Homo sapiens: one gene and its partner. The protein of the gene in region 1 purifies or fractionates together with the protein of each later gene. This does not show direct contact. Each region holds a gene or a part of one and is shown in the gene's direction. Other genes may lie near its edges. The genes, in order: TCAIM and KGD4.

What was found.
Region 2: the proteins of TCAIM (region 1) and KGD4 purify together in Homo sapiens (affinity purification with mass spectrometry; one large-scale study listed by BioGRID and IntAct). This does not show direct contact.

Annotation. Positions count from the first base shown.
Region 1 is NC_000003.12:44,407,148-44,410,066, forward strand, and holds the end of TCAIM (T-cell activation inhibitor, mitochondrial), read left to right. Parts: intron 1-294; coding exon 295-535; 3' UTR 536-2,301; downstream 2,302-2,919. UniProt on the Homo sapiens protein: May regulate T-cell apoptosis.
Region 2 is NC_000005.10:69,224,144-69,227,970, forward strand, and holds part of KGD4 (alpha-ketoglutarate dehydrogenase component 4), read left to right. Parts: intron 1-2,194; coding exon 2,195-2,258; intron 2,259-3,827. UniProt on the Homo sapiens protein: Molecular adapter that is necessary to form a stable 2-oxoglutarate dehydrogenase enzyme complex (OGDHC). Enables the specific recruitment of E3 subunit to E2 subunit in the 2-oxoglutarate dehydrogenase complex (OGDHC).

The DNA of each region.
Region 1 (2,919 bases):
AGGTAAGGCAATATAAGAGCTTTTTTAAATTTATGTTATTTTTAGCCCTTTACTGCTAAAAACATTAACAAATACTTTTAGAGATCCATGTGACAGTAACTCAAAAGATTTAACAATGATGGCTATTGGCGTGTCTTCCAAACGTATAATTTGGCCTTTGTGGGTGGCATTTTCAGTGTTGTGAGTGCACAGTTAGGGCCCCAACATGTAAGAATATATTTACATTGTGTGTTCTTTTGTTTGGTTATGACAATATTTGTTCTTATGACAATATTTTTATTTTCTATATAATAGGTTAAAGGTTATTGAAAATGAATTGATACAGGCATCAACAAAGAAATTTTCTTTGGAGAAGTTATATAAAGAGCCCAGCATTTCTAGTATACAAATGGTGGATTGTTGTAAGAGACTTCTAGAACAATCACTGCCTTACCTACATGGGATGCACCTCTGCATTTCACATTTTTACTCTGTTATGCAAGATGGAGACCTTTGTATTCCTTGGAATTGGAAGAATGGAGAAGCCATTAAGTAACACAGAAATCTGTTTTATTTTTTTAAGAGATAAGAAAGGAACTTAAATTAAAAATATTTAAATCCACAATTTGATATAACAGTATTATTTACATAAGAACAAAGTTTCTAACTGCTGCTTTAAAAGTAGACTTTTTTAAAAAAATTAATTTCTGCTAGGAGAGGTTTTATATGCCAGGCGTGGTGGCTCATGCCTGCGGTCCCAGCTACTTAGGGAGGCTAAGATAGGAGGATCACTTGAGCCCAGGAGGCCAAGGTTGCAGTGGGCCCAGATTGCACCATTGCCCTCCAGCCTGAGCAACAGAACAAGACCTTGTCTCAAAAAATAATAATGATAATTTAAAATAAATAAGTAACTAATAAAAAGATTTTATATCCCAGTCTTATGATGTTGGTTGGCAAGGCTAGATAAAAAGATGTTAGAATGAAAGAACATATTTTTAGTGATATGTAAATGAAGGATTCTACAATAGTCATATATTTTTATATGAATGAATGTTGGGTTGGGCTGGAGAGGTATGTGTGTGTAAATATAAAGGTCTCACATTCAGAGTATAGCTCTGAAATAATGGAACTCATGTCTACAATTCAACATGCATCTGTATAGTTACATCTCATGTAAATATACACAGACATATTTTGCAGCCAGTAATTGACAGTTAATGTCCAAAACAGGTGATTGATAGGTAACAGAAATTAGATAACCACCAATTTTGCCCAAGAGAAAGACTAGAAGGACTAAAAGCAGTTGAATGTATGGTACTGACATTGTCATAAGCAGTCTGATAACCAGTTTATTGAAACGTGTGCATTAACAGAGAATTTAATTTTAAACCCATAATTTCTCCTATCCATTAAAATATTATAATTGTTAGTAGTATGAAACCAACAGGAAATGTTTTTTAATCATTTAGTGAGGTGATTCATTTGTTTCATGGGCAAACACTATCCAGGAAAAGCCTTGCTTGCCTGTTTCCCAAAGAGCTCTAAGAAATAGAATCAAGTGTAAAATGGTTCAGACCATTCAGGATTTCTTGTCACTCTTCTCAACCACGATCTTCCTGTTATTACTGATGTTTGAAACCCTGTCATTAGCCCCGGCCTGGTTAAAGCCCCTCAGAGTCACCTCTCATTCATAGCAATAGAATTCAACCCCAAGTGGTTGATGGTGTCCCCAGCACAGCCGAGAGACCTGATCTCTGGATTCAGTGCTTTTAGCTCTTCGAGTTTACCCTAAGATACCTTCGGGCAATATTTTTAACCAACCCAAAAGCTCTTCAGGTCATTTCTGAAGAGGACAAGGTGAATCTTGGCTTGGAACACCATTTTTGGGCTCTTGCTACTGAATGAATCAGAAAGGAATTTTTTCTGAAGAGCATTAGAAAGTAAAAGAGATGTTAAAATAAGTTCTTGAAGTATGTTTTATATTTATCTAAAACACTGATTTTAAAAGTTTACATTCAAATGTGTATTCAAAAGAAGTACTGATTTGTAATTATTATAGTTTGTGTGTATCATCCCTTTTAACCGTGCCTAACAACTGTACTTAAATTTTGTTTTCTAGTGTAACAAATGTTTCCCATAAGATTTTCTAGAGCCAAATAATGGGAGTGAAAAATTCCTTAAGTGTTATATAAGAAAATATATTAGAAAATCAGCTTTGGATTATACGATTTCTAAAATATACTAATACAGAATCCTCAGTAATATGTTTTGAATTGGATTTTTTCTCAGAACTGTTACATAATAAATAATACATCAACCAGATAACTGTTTTTTTCTTGTTACCCAACTGTTATTAGTTTTGGAACTATTGCAGTATAATAGGAAATGAGAAGAAATTGGTACTTGTATATGCCTGTTTGACTTCCTTTCCCACTCTAACATGAAAGAGAAAATTCTGTCCCACCACTGAAAGCTGGCACAGGAGCAGGCCCCCCTCACTGTTTCTACAAAGTCTCAGGTGAGAAGTGGTCTCCAAAGGGACCTGAGCTCCAGCTCAGGGCTAGGCCTGTCCCAAGGGAGAAACAGGCCTGCACTCCCCTGCCCAGGCTGTCCTGGCAGGAAGGCATGTGTGTTTCCCTAGGACAGGTTCTTACCAGGCCCTACTTCCTCCTTTCTCTTAAAGGACTGCACCTCCAGGTGGCCTTCCTGAGCTAATGAGAGGGTAGTGGGCTTTCAGAAGTGGCCAGGTGGGACAAAAGGGACCAGGGCTGTCTCAAGGGCCAGCTCACCTTTGGCATCTCTTGGGAGTAAGTGTATATCCCAGATAGAGGTCCCTGGAGTTAACCCCCTCCAGCTCAGGTCACTGTCCCAGCAACCTGATGCCCCTGTGTCCCCCATACTAACTTGACCTCTTTCATGGAGTCTGCCGCCCCACCCCCA
Region 2 (3,827 bases), on another chromosome or scaffold:
ACTTTGGGAAGCCGAAGCAGGTGGATCATTTGAGGTCAGGAGTTCAAGACCAGCCTGGGTAAAATGGGGAAACTCCATATCTACTAAAAATACAAAAATTAGCGGGGTGTGGTGGCGCAGGCCTGTAATCCTGGCTACTCAGGAGGCTGAGGCAGGAGAATTGCTTGAACCTGGGAGGCGGAGGTTGCAGTGAACAGAGATTACGCCACTACATTCCAGCCTGGGTGACAGAGGAGACTCCATCTCAAAAAAAAAAAAAGTCTTTTATTTGTTTTACGTGGGTCTTGGGATTATAGTGTTTTCTTCTTTGTGCTCTTCTGTGTTCTTCCAAATGTTTTACACAGAATTTGTGTTACTTTTGTAGTCAAAAAAAGTATTCTTTAATTTTCTAATTTTCAAAATGATTGTTTTTTCTTCCCTGTTAGGTATTAATATAGTAGGGAAATAACACTCAAAACAAGTCAGGAGGCCAGGTGCAGTGGTTCATGCCTGAAATCCTAGAACTTTGGGAGGCTAAGGCAAGAAGATTGCTTGTACCTAGGAGCAGGAGGCGGAGGTTGCGGTAAGGCCACATCATGCCAGTGCACTCCATCCTGGGCAACAAGCCAGACGCTGTCTCAACAAAAAATTTAAAAAGTCAGTAAATTTCTGCCGGGTGCGGTGGCTCACACCTGTAATCCCAGCACTTTAGGAGGCCAAGGTGGGCGGATCATGAGGTCAGGAGATTGAGACCACCTTGGCTAACACGGTGAAACCCCGTCTCTACTAAAAGTGAAAAAAACTAGCCGGGCGTGGTGGCACGTGCCTATAGTCCCAGCTACTCGGGAGGCTGGGGCAGGAGAATCGCTTGAACACAGGAGGTGGAGGTTCCAGTGAGCTGAGATCGTGCCGCTGCACTCCAGCCTGGGCGACAGAGTGAGACTCCGTCTGAAAAAAGAAAAAAAAAAAAAAGGCAGTAAATTTCCAGTGTTTTTTCTTTGAGATGGGGTCTCACTCTGTTGCCCAGGCTGGAGTGCAGTGGCAAGATCTGAGCTCACTGCAACCTCTGCCTCCTTGGTTCAAGTGATCCTCCCACCTCAGCCTCCCAAGTAGCTGGAACTACAGGCACATAGCACCACATTTTTTTTTTTTTTTTTTTTGAGACGGAGTCTCGCTCTGTGGTCAGACTGAAGTATGGTGGCACTATCTCTGCTCACTGCAACCTCTGCCTCCTGCGTTCAAGCGATTCTCCTGCCTCAGCCTCCTGAGTAGCTGGGATTACAGGTGTGCACTACCACCATGCCCTGCTAATTTTTGTATTTTTAGTAGATACGAGGTTTCACCCTGTTGGTCAGGCTGCTCTCGAACTCCTGACCTCGTGATCCACCTGCCTCAGCCTTCCAAAGTGCTGGGATTACAGGTGTGAGCCACCATGCTCAGCCACCTTTTTTTTTTTTTTTTTTTTTAAGATGGAGTCTCACTCTGTAGCCCAGGCTAGAGTGCAGTGGCACGATCTCAGCTCACTGCAACCTCTGCCTCCGGAGTCCCGGTTGGTTCAAGCAGTTCTCCTGCCTCAGCCTCCCAAGTAGCTAGGATTACAGGCACGCATCACCATGCCCAACTAATTTTTGTATTTTTAGTAGAGATGGGGTTTCACCATGTTGGCCAGGCTGGTCTTGAACTCCTGACCTCGTGATCCGTCCGCCTCGGCCTCCCAAAGTGTTGGGATTATAGGCGTGAGCCATCACACTGGGCCTTGTTTTTCTTTTTGTTTTTGTTTTAATTTTTGGTAGAGACGGGGTTTCACCATGTTGCCCAGGCTGGTCTCAAACTCCTGCACTCACGCAATCTGCCTGTCTGGGCCTCCCAAAATGTTGGGATTACAGGCATAAGCCACTGCACCCAGCCAGCTTTCATTCTTACCAATCTATAAGTCATGCAACATAAACTCTACATCATCTCCTCCATTGGGTTGCTTTGAAGTGAAGTACACCTTCGATAGTACAATGAAGTCTTGTGATATATAAAGTACAAAGTTGTGTTTACCGGGTAGACAAGTTAATAATTCATAGACCAGCTTTCCTGGTTGGGGAAGAGTATAATTTAAAGTTGCTGTAAAATAGTAATTTTAACAAACGTATCTACTTATGAGGTTTAGTAGATCATTTCTTTTAGTTAATGAGATTGTTTTTCATGCATATTACTTTTCATTTAGGTAGTCAAACCACACACTCCATTAATAAGGTTTCCTGACAGAAGAGACAATCCTAAACCCAATGGTGAGTTGTATTTTATTTAAATTTCTTTTAAAATTGTGTACATGAATATTTATAAATGAGTATTTTATTATAGGCAATATTTCTCATTTTAAAATCAGTTAAGACTATTGTAGCTTAGATCAAAATAGTGCCTTATGTAGCATGCAAGTAGAAATTAACTTATGGCTGGGAGCGGTGGCTCACGCCTGTCATCCCAGCACTTTGGGAGGCCGAGGCACGCGGATCACCTGAGGTCAGGAGTTCAAGACCAGCCTGGCCAACATGGTGAAACCCTGTCTCTACTAAAAAATACAAAAAATTAGCCAGGCGTGGTGGCGGGCTCCTATAGTCCCAGCTACTCGGGAGGCTGAGGCATAGAATTGCTTGAACCCACGAGGCGGAGGTTGCAGTGAGCTAAGATCATGCCACTGCACTCCAGCCTGGGTGACAGGGCAAGACTTTGTCTCAAAAAAAAAAAAAATTATTACCTCTATTTTATTTTATTTTTTGAGACAGGGTCTTGCTCTGTCGCCCAGGCTGGAGTGCAGTGGTGCTATCTTGGCACACTGCAGTCTCCCCCTCCCGGGTTAAAGCAATTCTCGTGCTTCAGCATCCTTAGTAGCTGGGATTACAGGCATACACTAGCACGCCTGGCTAATTTTTGTATTTTTAGTAGAGACAGGGTTTCACCATGTTGCCTAGGCTGGTCTCGACTCCTGATCTCAGGTGATCTGCCTGCCTCCGCCTCCCAAAGTGCTGGGATTACAGGCATGAGCCACTCACCTGGCCTTTATTACCCCTATTTTAAAAGGTAGTGACTCAACAGAAGATGTCTCTGAATTTCTAGTGAGTTTATATGGGCAAAATTTTGTCCTACCTTTATTCTCTCCTATCCTTTAGAAGATTCTCCCATGCTTACATTTGCAGAGACTGGGAAAATAATAACCATTCCTGTTTCTCTCCTCACCAACCATCTTTTCTTTCATTCATTCATTTATCTATTCATCTAGTCAGTAAATATTTTTTGGATTGCCTTAATCCTTAGCATTTATTCAAAATTAATGGGAGAAGATTCTGAAAGGGTTCTGTTTTTCTCTGATTCCCGCCCTTTTTTAAAAAAACCAGATCCTCTGTGCCTCTCTTGATCTTTAATTCAGGCAATTTTAACACATTTTATAGGTATATTTTTAACTTATTGTAACTATTGAAGAATTAAGATGTTTAAACAAGTGTAAAGATATTGAGAAAACTACCCTCATTTACATTTACTGACTTTCTTATTCCTTATTGTAAGATATTACCTGTAAACTCCACCATGTGTTGGCCTATGAGGGGTTATGTGACATAAGCTTAAGTAGTGTAGGTTCCCCTAAAGGGTTGAATTCCACTAACTAGAAATTTCATTATTTTACATTTTTGTAATTCATTTACTTAAGACTGCCCCTTAGCTGGGTGCAGTGGCACATGCCTATAATCCTGACTACTCACAGGCTGAGGTGGGATGGCTGGCAGGATGTTTGCTTGAGCCCAGGAGTTCAAGATCAGCCTGGGCAACAAAGCAAGACCCCATCTGTAAACAATAAATGTATA